Regions from separate parts of the Homo sapiens genome. Here region 2 is linked to region 1. Evidence: fine-mapped expression QTL. A gene starts in region 1. The other region holds a variant in brackets. All regions are shown on one strand. Distances are between the middles of the regions. Region 1 holds the start of MICU2 (mitochondrial calcium uptake 2). Region 2 overlaps MICU2 (mitochondrial calcium uptake 2).

Evidence for each region.
Region 2: its variant is fine-mapped to the expression of MICU2 in whole blood (TOPMed, PIP 0.98).

Annotation. Positions count from the first base shown.
Region 1 is chr13:21,599,836-21,610,381 of GRCh38, reverse strand. It overlaps MICU2 (mitochondrial calcium uptake 2), which reads left to right and starts at 6,212. Exons shown (of 12, transcript NM_152726.3): 1 at 6,212-6,443. The coding sequence starts at 6,234. RefSeq lists enhancers at 6,029-6,098, 5,880-6,498, 6,499-7,118 and a silencer at 6,269-6,478.
Region 2 is chr13:21,486,813-21,497,358 of GRCh38, reverse strand. It overlaps MICU2 (mitochondrial calcium uptake 2), which reads left to right. Exons shown (of 12, transcript NM_152726.3): 10 at 1,199-1,307; 11 at 2,041-2,198; 12 at 4,006-4,668. The coding sequence ends at 4,110. Among named protein-coding and RNA genes, the nearest start is that of ZDHHC20, 33 kb to the right of the region's middle. The variant A/G (reference allele first, on the strand shown) is at 3,817.

The sequences.
Region 1 (10,546 bases):
CTGTGGCTGTGGCCAGAGGAAGTGATGAGGCGAATGAATCAAAGCTGTGGTATCACCCGCCTGTAGGCCAAGCAGGTGGCAGCAGTCACCAACACTCCCGGCCACCAGTCTGCTTGTGTGCAAGGCGCAGGCCTGCCCACCTGGGAGTTACCTGTCATACCTGGCTCCACCCTCCTTGCCAGGTCTCCACTGTCTCTAGCTGGAGACAAGACCATAAGGTCATTGTCTATGAGAGCCACTGAATGGTGACCATCTCAGTGTATCCAAGTCTCGGAAGTGCAAAAGAAACTCAGGGCAACCCAGTCAATTGGAGAAAGAAGCTCTGGAGAAAAGCCAGATCCTGCTGCCAGATGCCCAGCCTCCTGCCCTGCTGATGGCCTCTGGGTGGTGGTGCCGACACCACGTGTTCACACCGTGCTGTAGACTAAAGACAGCTAACCAGCAGACTGGCTTTGGGGAAAAGGAATGAAAGATGAAATTGAAATTTTCATTTGGGTTTTTAAGAAACAATAAAAATGTCAAAGCATTTGCATTTACTTAGTGGCTTGGTCTTCTGCATAGTTAAGAACAGGCTATTAAATTCTGGATGTCTCAATGCACAAGAATACACATCACAGACTTGAACATTTCTGCAGAAATCTTGGGATCAAGGAACATTTCATGAAATTATTTAGATCTTGTCCCTTGCTCCTCTGGATGTGCTGTCTTTCTTAACTCTTCTCTGTCACCATCTTTGATGTGCTTGAGATGTACATTTTACAGCTGAAAAGGAGCAAAGGAAAGAAAGTGTGAATTGTCTCCTTTGGTGGGCTACACCGAACTTTGGAGATATTATAACGGATTTTAAAATACCAATCAAATTCTTCTGACATACACAATCTGTTCCATAAACGTGTTTCCAGAAAAAATATTTTTTTGCAACCTCAAATGTTGTGCTGTCACTAATTTTCGTAAGTGTACTTTATGAGAACACAGATCCCTCTCCCTGAGATGTGGAAGTGTTACACAACACTCATACAACAGACTTTTTAATCTTCTTTCTGTTAGTGTCCCCCCAGCCTCCTAGCATTTTCAGCAATTTACACAACTTTTTTTCTTCAGTAAATGTTTGTTTCCATTGGATTATAAGCATTATTAAGAAATACAAAAACAAAATATTGGTGTGTGGGTTTTCTTTTTATGAGCACTCATCTTTTAAAAATCCATAATGAGCTGGCCACAGTGACTCATGTCTGTAATCCCAGCACTTTGGGAGGACGAAGAGGGAGGATCACTTGAGGCCAGGAGTTTGAGACCAGCCTGATCAACATGGTGAAACCTCATCTCTACAAAAAATACAAAATTTAACCAGGCAAGGTGGCACACGCCTGTAATCACAGCTACTCGGGAGGCTGATGCACGAGAATTGCTTGAACCTCTGAAGCAGAGGTTGCAGTGAGCTGAGATCGCGCCACTACACTCCAGCCTGGATGACACAGTGAGACTCTGTCTCAAACACACACACGCACACATACACACAAAATAAAAAATAAAAATAAAAATACATAATAAAATATGTAGAATAAAATTATATGAGCCTGGGGGCTATGCCAACATAATCTAACTGAGGGAAAAGGAGAAGGTGGAGATGAAATAAGACTGGCCATGAGTTTGTAATTGTGGAAGTCCAGCTCTACTCATCATTCTAGTCTAATTTTATATATATTTGAATTTTTCATAAGAAAAAGCTAAAAAAAGACAAGTATAATGGTTTCATTACCTCAACTAATAGTACAGTCACTCCCTCCATTCAGATTAATATATTTTTGTGAGGTACCTTTTTGAGCTATGACAGTCATCAAAAACTAATGTATAAATTAACTCAACATAATACCAGACCTTCTATCTCATAAAACCTAAATCAGCATTTTCCAAGTTAATGAAGCCAATTTAATCACATAGATCTCACTAAAATACTAACAGTTTTAGAATAAAACATTCATTGCATCTTTAATAATAAAAATACAATTTTATTTTGTAAATACTAATTCATCTTTACATCACCATTTACATTCTTACTATGTGGCTTTTAACATTTAGTTGTAAATGTGTAGATTTAAGAAATAAGCATACATAAATGGCAGGTTACATACTTTTAAAAGTTTTCAGCATAGAGGGCATAAGCCAATGTGTGAGACCACAGCCCGTGCCCAGGAAGCTCTATCCTATTTGTGCTTGTTGTCTCCAACGTGTGGTCCCATGCCTGGCACATATTTCACATTCGATACAGTTTGTCAACTGAGCAGAAAAAAAAGACACTTCGGAGTGGCATACAAAAAGAATTTTAGAAGTGTAAAAATAAACCAAAACCCATCTCCTCATTTTCCAACTGGGAGACAGAGGCTTAGGAAGGGTAAATCACAGAGCTAATGGATGTATGGTGAAAGAAATGTTTTAGGAAGATTGATCTAACATAGATCTGTGGGATGCTTCAGAGAAGAGAAAGACGAAGCAAAGGCACATGTTAAGAGATGGTCACAATAATCACAGGGCAAGGTAATGGGAGCTGCACTGCGAGGAAGGGAAGGTAATAAGATGCAGACGAGGATCTGAAAGACATACAAAACGCTCCTCTGGGCACTGCTTTCTCACTGTCAGTAAGATTTCACTTTAACCTATTTCTACACATGCTGGTATCAATCACGATACCCAGATATTTTTACTCATGGCCCCAAACTGCACAAAAAGACATAATTAGCAGTTCTTTTGACTCATTTAGGGCCTCTGAGAGTGATTCATACCCTCTGCTACACAATTATCCACCATAAATATAGTTCAACCTCTGACTATTCCAAGCAATGGTTCTTTATAATATCCATGCATATGCTTTTTACTTCATTCCTATAGGAGTCCAACCTCTTTAACTAATCTTTTGAGATCTCCCATATTTTTTCTCCTCCACCTAAGATAATCTGTCTCAGTGCACATTATTCTGGAATAGAGCAGTAAACAATCTTTCAGAATCCAATAGCAATTTTTGTTTTTCTCCCCACACATGCTAAGATCAAAGATGTGTTTGAGTTAATAATTTCTTCTAAAATGGAAATACAAAGGAGTAGATATCTTCAGTAAAAAAACTAGTTGACCTCTTTTGTTCAAGACCAGTAACCCAGAGGGAATCGAAGTTTTGATTGTCAGTAAAAAGGACAATAATTTGAAGAAGCGTGTGGATAGCGGCTAAGAAAGGCCAGGATAAAGTCCGGGCAAGCAGAAGAAATACACTGGTGGAGCATCTGAGATTCAGAAGAGGAGCTCAGCCTCAAGGCGGGTGGGGACGCTGAAAGGGAAGCATGAATACGCCAGTGACAAATGTGCAGAGGGTCAAGGGGGCTGACAACTGTTCCACAGACTGGAGATCATTGTGTGGCCCCTGCCTGGCCCTCAGGACACTCCAAGCCAGTCCCCAGCTAGCCCTTCTGCACCAAGCCTGTCAGCACACACTGTATGCACCCTCCCCCAGGCTCTCACCCTGCCTCAGACCCCAGCAAGTTCCAGATCAAGTCTTCTGTCTTCCCTAGATGCTTTTCTGCCTGTGCCAGCCCACCTCACCCTTGCTTCTCTGTACAGTATAAAAGTCAGAGACAATTGTTTTGAAATTCAAGCCTAGCCTCTCCAGTGAAAATAAAGCTCCTTAAGAGCAGTTTTTCTGACATATCACTTTCGTTCTTCTTCAGAAAAAAAGAGCAGGAGTAAGTGAATTAAGAATACTTTGAAACAATAAGTATTTCCATCCTGTTTTCGTCCAGTTATTTAAAACAGCATACAATGTACAGCTTTAGAAGCAGCTTCTTATTTGGGGGTTGGTTTATAAACTGCATGGTTGAAAATACATCCCAGCCCAGGACTTTACAGCTGATGATGAAGAAATGAACAAAGCTGGAGCCCAAAAAGACCAATATAGTCAATGTGCTTAGACAAATGTCAGCAGCTGCCAAGGAAGATTTCATACTTAGAATGGTTATTCGACTAGAGATTGGTTCTATTATAAGAATTTGTTTCCTCTGCATAAGAAAAGTTTGAATACATTAAATTATAAGTGAGAGTTCTAGATGCCTGGGCACATAATGAAAATTTAAAAAATAACTAATTACACTGTTTTCCAAGTGGGTTCAAAGATTTTTGGCAAAATAAAAAGAAGCTTTTGTTTTGAAAATAAAGTACCCCAAAGGAATAATATACTTCTGTATTTTGGATGGCCAAAGCATAGAAATATGAACCCCTGAGTTTCATTTGTGCCATTTATTTATTCACTTATTTACTCACTCATTGAATGTCTATTACGTGCTGGGCATTGTGCTAGGTGCTAGAGAAACAGGGAAAAGGAAGACATCTCACCCACAAGGATGTCAAATTGTGGGAGAAAGACAATGTTCTTAAATATGCTACATGTTTTAATGGGAATCTAAACTTATCTTGGGCTTAAGGCAATACTGAGTAATAGATGCCAGGTTTCATTAAATACCTAGAGGAACTGTGTGAGGCAGTTAGAAGTATACACGTAAAGACTGTGGTTTCTGGAAATCAAGAATAAACTACAAGGTAAGACATCCAGGGTGTCCAAAATATCCTGGAAGTCCTATTATCACCAGGAAACAAGCTAGATGTCAATAGTCCAGAAAAGCAGGACATGTGCCAAAGCTACCAGAGTTAGCAGAGGTGAAAAACAGTCCAGAGGTTGACAAAGTCAGGCTAGATACAAAAAAGCAGGAAAATCTCAGGTTAAGATGGGCTAGTGATCTGGAATCATGGACATTCAGTCAAGCTCATTTGTGTTCACAGGGCAGAAGTAAACCAAACCTTGACCACAGTAAACGCACATCTGTCATGAGCCTACCATGTGCCAGGCATTTGGCTAGTCACTTTATATAAAATATCTCATTTAGCTTCCCCACCCCAAACTGTAAGAGGGTTGTTCACAGATGAAAAAATTGAGACTCAAAGAGATTAAATACCTTACCCCAAATAGCAGTGATCATCTACCAAATCGTGAGTTATTTACAAATGAGAAAATGGAGACTCAGAGAGATTAAATAATTTGCCCCAAACCACAGTGATCATCCTGGTAGAGCTAAGATTCAAACCTTGAGGTCTGGCTCACAAGTCGGTGAAGTGAGGCTCATCTCTCTACTTCCTACCTGGGAAGGCACACTGAAAAGTAAGTCCAGAAGCTGACGGAAAAGTGAGGAACCTCTGACTGCAGATTAATTTAGACAAGCGGGCTAAGAGAAAGGGAGCAAGGATTAAGGGCAGATAATAACAAAGGGATCCACGGAACTTCCACTGAATGATCAAATTAGATTTCGTGTGACAGGTTTTTGTTTTTGTTTCTTGAAGTTTTGTTTTGTGCAAAACTTCAAGACAGCAGTGATTATGTGATTAGGAGTCTTGGCCCCTTTGATGTTGGCTCCGTTACTGCATGCCCAACTAAAGCTTCTAATAGCTGGGGACATTTCAGAGGCTGAACAAAGAGTTTATTAAAAAGAGTTACTCAGGAAAAGTGAAGACCAAAGAATGGAGGATTGGAGGCTGTTAAATAAAACCAAGTAGTCTGCCTCAGCTACATCACTTATCACCAATGCAACAGCCAGGACTGGAGGTATCGTTCTAAATCTGCACTGGGGAAAACCTCTGGGTCCCTGATGATAGAGACATGGGGCTGGTGTGCTGCTGTCTCTGACTTTTAGTTCTAGGTAGGATAAGAGCTACTATCAAACCTTTTGTTGAAACTGAATTTAAATTCATTATAAGCAAATAGTGAGGGACTGAAATAAACAGAATGCCTTGTCTGAGAGTTGTTTTAGCAGAAATGAAAGAACAGTCAAGACTATAAGCATAGGAAGACATGAACAACACAGATGCAGAAGAGACTATTTCAAAAAACGTTTCACAGTTTTACAAGGTGAAAAAATGAAAAGGAGAAACCTGCCCACACAACCGAGGGCACTATCTTGTTTTGGACTAGGAAGTCATATTATACTGTCTTGATACTCTTCCTGTCATCCCATCCCCACAGCCTTAGAAGGCAGCCCCGGAACCGAAGGCCACCTCTTGCGGCTGCGAGCGTCGCCTCAGCAACCGCACCCACGGCGCAGGCCCGGTAGGCGGGGCGGAAGCCTGTCGGATGTCGCGAGAGTTCCCAAGCGGTAGGCGGCGGCGCCGGGAGAGAAGCGCCGCCTAGCTGCGCTTCCGCAAAGATGGCGGCGGCTGCGGGTAGCTGCGCGCGGGTGGCGGCCTGGGGCGGAAAACTGCGACGGGGGCTCGCTGTCAGCCGACAGGCTGTGCGGAGTCCCGGCCCCTTGGCAGCGGCAGTGGCCGGCGCGGCCCTGGCAGGAGCAGGAGCGGCCTGGCACCACAGCCGCGTCAGTGTTGCGGCGCGGGATGGCAGTTTTACAGTCTCCGCACAGGTACAGGACTAACTCCTTCTGCTAGCCCCAGTCAAGCTCCTCCCTCCCCTGACGCCCTTAGGCGGGGAGTGGTTTGGCTCTGGGCGGCTCTCCCGGAGCCGTGGGTGGAGGTGCCGCTGCGGATCGGAGCGCCCTGCGACTGGTGGGACTCGCTCCTTCCTGGACCGGCCCCCGGCCTGAGTCCCCGAGGGCCTTCGAGGCTGGTGACCGGAGATTCTGCCTCCCTTGGGAGAACCCCGCGGACGCTGAACACCACGGCCCACAAAACTGGCCGCACTAATTTAGTGGTGATGAGTGTGGGCGTGTCTTAATTCGAGGCTCCTAATTCAGAATCTCACTGCGCCTCGCCTCTTGCTACCTCTCTGGTCAGTGAAGTGGCATTCACATCCGCAGGTGGTTTGCGTCCAGTTACCCCTGTGGGATATACCTTTGTTAAGCTTTGCAACTAAGTTTTACGATCTTTTCTTTGTATAGCATGATGAAGTTCTGTCGATTGCTTTTTTAAGTCACGAATGTGTCAGCCACAAAAATTAACCAGTTGATTTCCAGATTTTATTATCAACTTTAAGGAACATTATTGCATGATTATAAACCTTAATATCTTAGTGGACCATAAGTTCTAAGCAAAAATTGCTCCTAAAACCTCCATCTATTAAAGACAAGAGTCCGCCGGGCGCGGTGGCACACGCCTTTAATCCCAGGGCTTTGGGAGGCCGAGGCGGGTGGATCTCCTGAGGTCAGGAGTTCGAGACCAGCCTGGCCAACATGGTGAAGCCGCTCCCCACCCCAGCCCCGCCCCCCCGGTCTCTACTAAAAAATATAAACAATTAGCTGGGTGTGGTGGCGGGAGGCTGAAGTAGGAGAACCGCTTGAATCCGGGAGGCGGAGGTTGCAGTGAGCCAAGATCGAGCCATTGCACTCCAGCCTGAGCTACAAGAGCGAAACTCCGTCTCAAAAAAAAAAAAAAAAGATTCAAGTTCCCTATTTCAGGATAAATGATGTTGTAACGCATTTGAAAATTTGAATGAGTAGTGCTTTAAAATTTTTGTAGACTTAGTAAGTTTTTACATATGAGCTTTTTTGAAAATTGAAAGTAGTAGTTTATTATTTTCTTTTTTAGATTTACATTATGCCTTTCTAGCGAAAAACTCAAGGAACATTCAGATACAACAAAAAAGAGAGGAAAGAAGGCCTTGTGAGTTAAAATTAAGTATTGGCAACTGATATTCCTTATTTGTATTAACATACATTATAATTATATTGTAAACATATATAATGGAAAGATCTATTATCTAGTGTTTTTATAGCATTTTTGTGAATCTTGTGCCAAGGAGTTCAGTGTATTCATCATTAGTTTCTCTCCCCTAGATTCATCCTGGTTTTTTTGTTTGTTTTTTGTTTTTGTTTTTGTTTTTTTTGAGAGGAGTCTCGCTCTGTCGCCCAGGCCGGACTGCAGTGGCGCTATCTCGGCTTACTGCAAGCTCCGCCTCCCGGGTTCACGCCATTCTCCTGCCTCAGCCTCCCGAGTAGCTGGGACTACAGGCGCCCGCCATCGCGCCCGGCTAATTTTTTGTGTTTTTAGTAGAGACGGGGTTTCACCGTATTAGCCAGGATGGTCTCGATCTCCTGACCTCGTGATCCGCCCGCCTTGGCCTCCCTAAGTGCTGGAATTACAGGCGTGAGCCACTGCGCCCGGCCGATTCATCCTGTTTTTAAGACCCTTAGGTTAATCTTCTCCGGAGTATCACTTTAACCACACAGTGTACCCTTCTTCAGAAACCCTTCTTCAGTGTCTCATTTTGCCAAGAGTAAAATGCACTTTTTTTTTGTTGTTGAGATGGAGTCTCTGTCACCCAGGCTGGAGTGCAGTGGCGTGATCCCGGCTCACTACAACCTCTTAACTCCCCGGTTCAAGTAATTCTCCTACCTCAGCCTCCCAAGTAGCTAGGATTACAGGCATACGCCACCACGTCCAGCTAATTTTTTTTTGTATTGTTAGTAGAGCCGGGGTTTCACCATGTTGGCCAGGATGGTCTCGATCTCCTGACCTCGTGATCCGCCTGCCTTGGCCTCCCAGAGTGCTGGGATTACTGGCGTGAGCCACAGCGCCCGGCCAAAATGCACATTTTAAAACTTTGTCTTTCAGAGCCTTTTATAGTCACACTCTGACCTGACACTACTCAGGCACCTTCCCACTAAAGTGATTCACTCACTATCCCTAGAACAAGACTTAAATACCGCTCACCCGCCAGCTGCAATTTGTAGACTCTTGATTTCACTTATCCATCTAATTGTTTTTTTTTTTTCTGGCCCACTTCTAATCTTTCTCCTTTGAAATCCCTGACTTGATTCTAAAAGCTTCACACTAGTGTAGTTATTTTGGATTCTCTTCCCAACTCTCAGCTCTCCTTCCCTGCAGCTTTGTAAGTTTAATCTTAGCTAAAGTAATACAGAAACCATTTTATTATCAATCGTTTTATAAGGTCTGTTGGCATAGCATTTGCCTGATCTGCTATTGGACCGAGACAGTGGTTCTCATCCTTTTGCCACCACGGTGGACATTCCTTTCAGCATCAGTGGCTGAATACAGGAAGGATTGAGAGGACCTATAGGTTGAAAACTTTGCCTTCGCCTCAGTGATTTTGATACATTTCCCTAAGAAGTGGGCCTACTACCACTACTTTAGGGACAGGTGTGCATAGTTGAGCTAGATATATACCAGAATTTTGGCTTGTGATGAATCTTTCATTGCAATAGAATTTTATGCATTAATATAGTTACATTGGTATTCCAAGTTGGTAAACTCTTCCTGACGCGGCCCTATAATAATAGTGAATATGTCCGGCCGGGCCTGGTGGCTCACGCCTGTAATCCCAGCACTTTGGGAGGCCGAGATGGGCGGATCACGAGGTCAGGAGATCGAGACCATCCTGGCTAACACAGTGAAACCCCGTCTCTACTAAAAATACAAAAAATTAGCTGGGCGTGGTGGCGGGCGCCTGTAGTCCCAGCCACTCGGGGGCCTGAGGCAGGAGAATGGCGTGAATCTGGGAGGCGGAGCTTGCAGGGAGCCGAGATCCTGCCACTGCAGTCCAGCCTGGGCGACAGAGCAAGACTCCGTCTCAAAATAATAATAATAATAATAGTGAATATGTCCTTCATTTTCAGTCATTACACTAAGTGCTTTTTTCCAATAAAAATATAAATTTATATTAATGGAGTCCTACACTTTTCTAGTTCCCATTGTGACCAACAGCTTGCATTTGTGAGGGTCAGTCGGGAATTAAGGGTAGAGTTTCATGTCATGAAACAGTAGATAAATTGGAACCTTCCTTTTTTCTTTACTTTCTTCCTTTCACAAGTTTTGAAATCTTACTCTGTGCTAGACAATATGCCAGGAGCAGGGATTAGAGACACAGTTTATGTGCTTACAGTTTAATGGGGAACGGCAGTTTTAATACAATGTGATAAATGCTGTGGTAGGGTTAAATACTGGGTGCTGTGGAAGCATAGTGGAAGAGTATTTCACAAAGTCTTGGTTTCCTGAAGGAATTATGTGTAGGTTGACACCTGGAGGGTGACTGCAAGTTTGCTAGGCAAAGAGAAGGGGAAGAGTTTTCTAGGCAAAGGAGATAGCTTTACAGAGATCTGGAAGTAAGAGTTGGACTCAGCAGAGTAAGAGCTGCAAAAGATGGGGTTCAAAATTGGGTGTGAGCAATGGCTGGGAATCAGATCATTAAGTGTCCCATAAGCCATGTGACAGGAATTTTTATCTTGAGGACAGCAGGAAGCCATTGCAGGATTTCTTAACCCTCATGGACCCCCATATGTCCATGCATAGAATTTAGGGGATCCATGAACTTAGAAAAAAGATTACATTTTTGTTTTCATTGACAAAATTTCATCGACAAAAATTTTGTTTCATTGTTTTCATAAATTGTTTAATGTTTTCTTCATTTAATGAATGTAGGCAACAAGCTATAGTGGTATTACAGTAACTGCCTTTGTCATCAACAGAAATCTCAGATATTTTCGTACTATATTAGAGTTGTTGTAAGTATCTCAGAGTATCACTTCTTCAAAATGAAAACACTTTTTAAACC
Region 2 (10,546 bases), 110 kb after region 1:
GAGTCTCACTCCATCACCCAGGCTGGAGTGCAGTGGCGCGATCTTGGCTCACTGTAGCCTCCGCCTCACGGGTTTAAACAATTCTCCTGCCTCAGCCTTCCAAATAGCTGGGACTACAGGTGTGCACCACCACACCCAGCTAATTTTTTTTTTTTTTTCTTTTTCACCATGTTGACCAGACTGGTCTTGAACTGCTGACCTCAGGTGATCTGCCTGCCTTGGCCTCCCAAAGTGCTAGGATTAGACATGAGCCACAGCACCCAGCCCGTTTGTTTGTTTGTTTGTTATGTATTTTTTGAGACAGAGTCTCGCTCTGTCGCCCAGGCTGGAGTGCTGTGGCGTGATCTCGGCTCACTGCAAGCTCTGCCTCCTGGGTTCACACCATTCTCCTGCCTCAGCCTCCCAAGTAGCTGGGACTACAGGCGCCTGCCACCACGCCCGGCTAATTTTTTTGTTTTTGTGTTTTTAGTAGAGAAGGGATTTCATGGTGTTAGCTAGGATGGTCTCCATCTTCCGACCTCGTGATCCGCCCGCCTCCGCCTCCCAAAGTGCTGGGATTACAGGCGTCAGTCACCGCGCCCGCACCATTTGTTTTATTTGTAAGTGCTCAGATTTTGAAGTCAGATGGACCAAGGTTCAGATCCTGATTGTTCCAGTTAGTAGACTTTGGGCAAACTACATAACCCCTGAAGCGTTACTTACCTAAGACTTAGAGAGGCTAAGGTCATACACGTTATAAAGGGCAGAACCGGAATTTCAGCATTAAAAGTCCATCTAACTCCAAAACTCTGTGCTCTTACTCAGTGCTATGTCCACTAATAAAACTTAGCAGAAGTGGACCACTTAACAGAGTATGTTAGTCTCTTCAAGCTGCCGCCTCAAAACACCACAGGCTGGGCAGCTTAAACAATAAATTTATTTCTCACAGTTCTGGAGGCCAGGAGTCCAAGATCAAGGCACCAGCAGGGCCAGTTTCTGGTGAGGCCTCTTGCCCAGCCTGCACACAGCACCTTCTCACTGTGCCCTTTGTGTGGCCATTTCTGTGTGCACACAGAGAGAAAGGGACAGAGAAAGCTCTGTTGTCTCTTCCTCTTAGAATGATACTAGTCTCTACGGTAGAAAAGAAAGTTCATAGTTAACATTTATAAGATTATTTAATGTACTTACAAAATTGTAATAAAAACTCTTACTTTATTAGAGCATTAGTTTGGATGAATTCAAGTCATTTTGCCATTTTACAACCCACTTGGAAGACTTTGCTATTGCCATGCAGATGTTCAGTTTAGCTCATCGTCCTGTCAGACTAGGTAAGTTATATGAAAAACCATTTAATTTTTATCATCTATAAACAGTTTTACTATATTCTTCAACTAAATGCTACCAATCAAGGAACAAATTATAAGTAAAAATAGTTGATTGACCTTTTAATTCAGTGTGGTTATTCTAGATTTAGAATACCAGTACTCCAGTTTAATGGTTACTTTCTATACTTTTATTTTCTCATTCTCCTAAAAAGAAGGAAGAAGGCCGGGCATGGTGGCTCATGCCTGTAATCCCAGCACTTTGGGAGTCCAAGGTGGGCGGATCACAAAGTCAGGAGTTCAAGACCAGCCTGGCCAACATGGTGAAACCCCATCTCTACTAAAAATACAAAAACTAGCTGGGCGTGGTGGCAGGCGCCTGTAATCCCAGCTATTCAGGAGGCCGAGGCAAGAGAATCGCTTGAACCCGGGAGACGGAGGTTGTAGTGAGTCAAGATCGTGCCATTGCACTCCAGCCTGGGCGACGAGCAAGATTCATCTCAAATATATGTTTAGAGCATTGATTAAATTACAATAGCTCATTTGTCTTGCAGTGACTCTCATGACATTCGTCGGCTTATGGTTTGAATATTTTCTTCATGGGTATTTTTGTTTTTGTTTTACTTCCCAAATAATAAAAATTTGGATTTGCTTTTACTTCTCAAATAATGAAAATTTAGATTAATTTCACTTAGACTATTTCACATAGTTGATAAGTTGTTTTATGTTTGTTTTTTAGCGGAGTTTAAGAGAGCTGTGAAAGTAGCAACAGGACAAGAACTCTCAAACAATATTTTGGACACTGTCTTTAAGATCTTTGATTTGGATGGTGATGAATGTCTTAGTCATGAAGAGTTTCTTGGGGTGTTAAAAAACAGAATGCATCGAGGTTTATGGGTAACAGATTTTTTTTATATAATACATGTTTACATTGTCATTAACTGATATTAAACCTAGAATTTGGGCAATTGTACAGTCTTTAAATGGAGTTTTCATCACTTATAAAAAGACTATAAGCTGTAATTGAAATACAGAAATATATTTTATATATGAGATTAAACATCTTTGCTTTTTAAAAAATAATGTGAATCTAATAAGAAATCACTATTTAAAGTGACTGTGAGCTACGATCGCACCACTGCACTCTAGACTGTGCAACAGAGCAAGCCCTTGTCTCCAAAAAAAAATAATTTTTTAAAAAAGAAATTACTATTCAGAAATGTAGCCTAGCTGGACATGGTGGCTCACATCTGTAATCCCAGCACATTGTGGGAGGCCGAGCCGGGTGGATCACTTGAGGCCAGGAGTTTGAGACCAGCGTGGATAACATCATGAGACTCTGTTTCTACAAAAAAAGGGAAAAAAAATCATAGCCTAGGATTTGACTAACTACATGTAATTAGATATATGTAAATTCAAATCCCACCTCTACTGTTTATTAACTGCTTAATCTTGCAAAGCCACTTAATTTTTTTTAGTCTCAGATTCTTGACCCATACCATGAGGAAACTAATCTACCAGAAAGCATTATTGTTAGAATTTGATGTAAAATACTTAGTATAGTGGCTGAGATTATGAAGTAAATTTCACTATTAGCATTATTCACTCAAAGTCACATATGAGTCTATACTTGTGGGACAAATCAAATTCAGATTTTTGTTCAGATTAGAATGTGCTAGAAGCACTCTCAGAAAAGAAGTCTGCCAGGGGAAGACTAGGGTCCAAAGAGAATCTACATGGTTGGTAGGTAGGCAAGAAAAAAGGAAGGAGAGAGAGAGAGAATATGGTACTATTCATGAAAATAAAGCTATTTACAACTTAGAAAAGCAATTCCATTTCCTGCAACAAACATAACTTAGGGAAAAATAAATATTATTTTCATTAGCAAACATATTAATATTTTATAAACTTTGCAGTTATCCAACACCCATAAATATATTCCGGGAAATTAAGCCAGTCTTTTCAGTTCACAATTGAGTGTACCTGGGAGTCTCCTTGCCCTTTCTCAGAAGACATTAAAAAGAAAAGCTGTAAATCAGTCATAAGAAAAAGAACATATATAATCTGGAGTAGAATTTTGCTTCCACTTGGCTAATTTTCATCAGTGCTATGCTCCTGTGGTCCCCCGGATCCAAATATTTCCTAACCTTTACCTTTTCATTTTGTTGAGAGTAGTAGTAATCCACATGTATTTTTAGCTAACAAAACACGTCCATGAATTAGATTATTTCTTGAAGCTTTTCATCAAATACTTTGTGGCCTTTTTTTTTTTTAATTTTAGCCAATGTTAAATCAAAGCTTTAGGCTTATAATTGTATTCTACATAGCTAAACAAAGTTCACCAGAAAAAAAGGGAAAGATTATAAAACATTATAAAAGGAAAACATTATAAAGTAATTAAATTTTAAAGCCAGTATGTGAAAGAAGAGATGGCCCAAAGTCTTCATTACCCTCTTAGAGAAGAAACTCCATTAATGTGTGCTCAGTCTGGTTCCACTCCCTAGTAACCTTAAGC[A/G]TAGTTACATTCACTTTTTGTCTTTTACCCCCATTTTCAGTTCTGTTGTGATCATCTTTTACAACATAATTCACCCTCAACTATTTTTGGAGGAGTGTGGGAAGGAAATAAACAGTAACGTAAAGTATATATGAAATCATGTTTAACCTTGAAGACAATGACCCCTTGATTTTTACTTTCGGTTAACAGGTACCACAACATCAGAGTATACAAGAATACTGGAAGTGTGTGAAGAAAGAAAGCATTAAAGGAGTAAAAGAAGTCTGGAAACAAGCTGGAAAAGGTCTTTTTTAATAAAAGATATAATAGTATGGCAATTATATTGTTCCAAATGTCAAAATTTGTGATTTTTTAGAAGTACTTGCTATTTATCTTCTTAAGTCTTCATTGATATTCTGTGTGAAATAAGCATGTCTTGTACTTGCTTTCTGATTCATAATTTTATTAAAGAACTTAGTAGAAAGAAAAGTAAGTATAAAAATAGATATTGGATTCTGTCAGAAGGCCTAGATTTGAAATAATGTTTTGTACTTCGGTAAGATGGAAAACTTAGTGATTCACTGATTTCTTAGACACTCTAATATGATATGCTTTCTGGAAGGATAAAACAAATACATATGGGAAAAAGTACTTGAGACCAAGGCCAGCATCAATTCCAGACATCTTCATGTTCCTAATAGGCTAAATGAAGTTAAAAACTTATTTCAGATTTTTCTCATCTGTACCTTATATCTCATAAATTTATTGCATATTTTATGTCAGTAGCTTAGCTGTTTATTGTCTTTAAAATAACATGTAAACTTCAATGTTCTATCTGGAAGCAGAATAAAATATTTACATAGATACAAAAAATACTGAGGTGCTTTTTATTTTACATGTGTTTTTAAAACTACTTTAAAAAAAATTGTAAATACTCTCATCCCTTGCCAGCCTCATTAGTTCTTAAAACCTGGTGTAGCTGGGAGAAATTTTGACCCCAAGGTCAGGGGCTCATGGGATATATTAGGTTGTGGGAAACAAATGTTGCCAGAAGGTAATTGGCATTAAACTGAATATCAAATGGCATTTTTTAAAACCTGGTAAATAAAAATTATAAAAAACTTGTGTCTCAGACACACAATTTAGAAAATTGCAAATATATAAAACCAGTTCCATTCTCTAGAGAACTGGCTGATCCCAAGGCCGTGACAGGGAAAGTCCAAGATAAGCCTAGAATATATTGTGCCTAAAAGTAAAGAAGGGCTCACAAAATGGTGAAGAGTCAGAAGGACAAAGCCAGCTTGAAGGGGCTGCCCCTGTCAAATCTGGTTCAGTTTGAGGGTCAGAATAATTAATGTCCGTAATAGATTATAGCCTATTGAATGAAATAAGAATTCATGAGTTTACACCAAAAATTAATGAGGCCAGAGAAACCTCTCCCTTATTGTTGAAGGATAATGCCTTGAAATATGTTAATCCACTAAATTGAAAAACTCTCCCTCACAGTTTAATGATTGAAATCGACAAGAGGCAAAAGCTTTTGTCCATTTATTACAAAAAATATTTTGCTCCTGATTCAAAAACAAATTTGCTCTAATGAATTGTTTTATAAATAATTGCTTATAAAATAATTTTTTCTCTCTCTTATAAAACCAAAAGATAGGCAATGCAAGAAAGTATAAGTATGAATGAATGAATCCTCCACCATTTTCTCTGTCAACCACAAAAATGCTGACTCCTCACCTGTCTTTCCAGATGCCCTTATGGGTCAAGATTAGGGGCACAAAAATCCAAAAATTAAGATGGTTTCTCATGCCTTCACAGGCTTCACTTTTTCAGCCTCACCTGGCACTGATTTGTCTGCCCCACTTTCCACAGCATTCCATGAATACTGTTTTGTGCTCCAGCGACATAAAGCTCCTGGCCTTTCCTCATGTACACCATGTGCGTTTCACATACCCCTACCCCTAAGCTTGTTACACATGCCATTTCCTTCTGACAGCGATGCCTTTCCCTCGCTATCTTTTTTTTTTTTTTTTTTTTTTTTTGAGACGGAGTCTCACTCTGTTGCCCAGGCTGGAGTGCAGTGGCACGATCTCGGCTCACTGCAAGCTCTGCCTCCTGGGTTCATGCCATTCTCCTGCCTCAGCCTCCTGAGTAGCTGGGACTACAGGCACCCGCCACCACGCCCGACTCATTTTTTTGTATTTTTTAGTAGAGACGGGGTTTCACCATGTTGGCCAGGATGATCTTGATCTCCTGACCTCATGGTCCACCTGCCTCGGCCTCCCAAAGTGCTGGGATTACAGGCGTGAGCCAACGCACCCGGCCCCCTTGCTATCTTCTTGGTGAAATTCTAGACATCAAGGTGCTACCCACATACCAAGTTTGTATCTACCAAAGTATTAAGAGCAGGAGCACTGCCTTAGTCATCTTTATATACCAGTCTAAGCTGAATCCCTGGCTTACAGTAGGCATCCAACAAATATTTGTTGAACAGAAGGAAAGAAGAGAGGGAGGGAGGGAGGAAAGGAGGAGATTTGGGATGGGAGGAGCTAGTAAAGTTCATGAGTTAATCAAGAAGTATGCCAAAAACCTGCTAGGCCCCAAGCATACAGTGGTGAAATAAATGGTTCCTGCTGTCATGGAACTTGCAGAAGGTGAAGACTGAAAACTAACCAGGAAACATTTTAAGTATATATATACAATTAAAAACTAAGATTTAAAAAAAAAAAAGTGATGTTAGAGATCAGAAGACTTTCTTACAACAAGAGTATTTAGAGGGTTGAGGATAGTTTTCCATTTTTCAAGGCTAAAAGGAAATTACTATAACTGAAAAGATTTCTGAAAACGAATAATGTTTGTCATGTCATTACTACAAAAGTACTTGATCCCATTTGAAAAAAATAGGGATAAATATATATCAAATAAGCAAACTAGATTTGCCAATATCTCCTAGGAGTACGGAGACATTTACCTTGAAAGCAGCTGGACTTCCTAAAAATCTAAACTGCATGAATCTTCAGTCATTTGTTTCTTTACTATCATTTTGTTAAATAAATGATCACTAGGTCTGATATTCTGGTAGATAGCTTGTATTTCTCTGCTTATCCCTTCAAGGTGGGAGACAGTTGCAGGGGGTATCTGAGCCCTGCCTTCACGGATCTTCTCCTCCTTGCCCATCCCCTCAGGAATCTCATCACCCCTCTGGCTTCTGTTCTCTCCTCACCTTCAGGCCCAGTTGCTTTCTAGATTTCTCCATTTGGTTTGTCCAACTCAAGCACATCCAAAACTGACCTGATTATGTCCCCCTCTTTTTCCAAACCTCATTTCTTCACATGTCTTCTGCCTTAGTGAACGGGTCTCCTACAAGAAACCAACTAGGAACCAGACAGTCATCCCGGATCCTCACTCCCTTACTCCTCTATAGTCAATCATGTCCTGTGAATTCTGCTTCCTCAAAATCGCCAGACATGTGCTCCACCTTACAACACTGTTGCCACTGCCTTAGTGCAAGCCCTGATCATTCATTACTTAGATGATCTCCGTGGAATCCTAACTTGCCCTTTGTCCGGCCCCTTGTAAGGCACAGCAATTAAGCATCCAAACTCTGCTGTTAGACTACCTGGATTCAAATCTCAGCTTCACCACATTAGTTATATAACTCACCACATAACCGTTTGGCAAAGTACTTGAGCTCTCTGTGCCCATTTTTAATCTAAAAAGGAATGATTTTAGTTGTGATGTCATAGCCTTTTTGTAAGGATTGAGATGATGTATGAAATGCACTGGAGTAAACCTTTAGCAGCTTTTAAATATTAATGCTGTTAACTTCTTATTTCAGATCCTCCTTCACAACAGACTTATTTTCTGAAACATAAATCTGATCATGTCACTACGCTTCTGATAATCTTACGACACTAAAATCGCTTAAAAAATAAAATTCAACTCTACATGATCTTGCCCCATCTATCTTTCTCATATCCTAACACTTGCCACCACACACTTTACACTACAACAATACTGAATTACTTCTCATCACCCCGCTTGGCCATGTTCTCACTCTCCAAGTGTTTGCACTTACTAGTGCTTCTGTTGAAGATGCTCCCACCTGCCTAACTTCCAGTGCCATTTCATCTGCAAAGTTTTCCATTTTTCTCCCTGCTTTTCCCTCAAATTCATTTAGGGATACATGCTGTTAGTTCCCTCACACGTTTCTGTCCACATATCTTTCAAGCCTCATTAAAGTATACTGGAATTCTTTTATGTATTTGCCTCTTCCCCTTGGCTATGAGCTCATTGATAGCAACAACATGACTCCTTTAACGCTATCTCCCAGCATCCATCAAAGAGCTAGCACATACTCGCTCAAAAAAATGTTTGACCTATGAATTAGTTAACAAAAAGGAAAGTGGAACAAGAAATAACCCTGGGCCAGGCACGGTGGCTCATGCCCACCGCTAATCCCAGCACTTTGGGAGGCTGAGGCAGGCGGATCACCTGAGGTCAGGAGTTCAAGACCAGCCTGGCCAATATGGCAAAACCCCAACTCTACTAAAAATACAAAAATTTAGCGAGGCATCCTGGCACGCACCTGTAGTCCAAGTTACTCGGAAGGCTGAGACAGGAGAATCACTTGAACCTGGGAGGCAGAGGTTACAGTGGGCCGAGATTGTGCCACTACATTCCAGCCTGAGTGACAGAGGGAGATTCTGTCTCAAAAAAAAAAAAAAAAAAAAAAATCCCCATATGTGCTTTAGCTGTTCTCACATACCAGCTTTTCTGTTACAGGACTGGACAGGAGAGAGTAGATGGCTTAAGGGAGCTTTAAGACAGCTCTGGTTTGGCCTCTGCTTTGGACACAGATAGCAAATATCAAGAGAGACTGGCCAGGGGTTCTGATACGGTTAGAAAGCAGAACAGGTTCTGGGAATGGAAACAAATTGAAATGTCCTCCCAAAGTTTGGAAACAAGGTTACCCTCCAGGTGTTAAATCATAAAAATCAAAGCATAATGTAGAGGCCAGGCATGGTGGCTCATGCCTGTAATCCGAGCACTTTGGGAGGCCGAGGCGGGAGGATCACTTGAAGTCAGGAATTCAAGACCAGCCTGGCTAACATGGTGAAACCCCGCCTCTACTAAAAACATGAGATTAGCCAGGTGTGATGGCAGGCACCTGTAATTCCAGTGACTCAGGAGGCCAAGGCAGGAGAATCGCTTGAAATCAGGAGGCAGAGGTTGCAGTGAGCCAAGATTGCACTCCAGCCTGAGCAACAAAGTGAAACTCTGTCTCAAAAAAAAGGCATAATGTAGGGAATGATGTCAGGGAAGATAGCAGAGCAGGAGGCTCCAGGAATCTGTCCCTTCACCTAAACAACTATTGAACTGGCAGGAATTGTCTTATTTTGGAACATTTCTGACATTTGAGGGAGAGTTTGATGAAGTTGCTAGTAAATTTTGGTGAACTTCAGCCTTTTGTGATGTAGCAGCAACAGCAAAAAGCCTGCCACCCAGCATCAGGAAACTGTCAGGGAAGCAGCCCACATTCCTGGGGCAGCTTCCTGGAACCAGTGTGAGCACAAAAGACCTTATCCTCCAGGAGTGGGGGTCATGTGTTCTGCTAGCTGCTTGCTGATTTTGATAAAGTGATGAGGGGCCAGGCTGGAGGCCAACCATTTTTTAATGCCCACTTCACAAGCTGAAGCAGCTTCCCAGCCACAAGAGATTTAAAGAGACAGGATATCTTCCCTCCTTCTTGAAAGTCAGACATTTAAGGACATTTTTGTCAGGTTACTGGCTAACTGTAGAGATAACAGAAAAGAAACCTCAGTAGCCACACACAACAAGGAAGATACATTGTTTGGAAAAGGCACAAATAGGAATGGGTCCAGCCCACAACAAGCAAAAACAAGCAATCCCTAAGGAGTAGAATTAGATTCCAGAGTTACTACAACATAATGCTCAGAATAACCAGTTCTCAACAAAAAATTATAAAACATGTAAAGCAACAGGAAAGTATGATCCATTCACAGGATATAAAGAATTTCACAGAAACCATACCTAAAGAAGACCAGACTTTGGAATTATTAGTCAAAGATGTTAAATCAATTGTTTTAAATATGTTCAATATGTTTTCTAAAGGAAACCATGAATAAACACTAATAGAAATCAAGAAAACAATGTCTGAACAAAATGAAAGTATAAATAGAAATTATAAAAAGGAGCCAAACAAAATCTGCAATAACTAAAATGAAAAATGCAATAGAGGGATTCAACAGCAAGTTTGAACAAGGAAAAGAGAGGACTGGCAAAATTGAAGATAAGACATTGAAAATTACCCAGTCTAGGGAAAAGAAAGAAAGAGTGAAGAAAAATGAAGACAGCCTGAGGAACCTATGGGACCTCATCAAGCATACCAAATACACATTATAGGAATCCCAGAAGGAGAAGACATAGAGAAAGGAGCAGCAAAAAATTTGAAGAAATAATAGCTGACAACTTCCCAAATCTGATTAAAAACATGAATATATACATCTAAGAAGCTCAATGAACTCCAAGCAGGAAAACTTTGAAGAGATACACACTGAGACATATAGTCAAATTATCAACTCCCATAGACAAAAAGATAATTTTGAAAGCATCAGGTAGAAGTGACTCATGCGGCCAGGTGCGGTGGCTCATGCCTGTAATCCCAGCACTTTGGGAGGCTGAGGTGGGCGGATCATGAGGTCAGGAGATTGAGACCATCCTG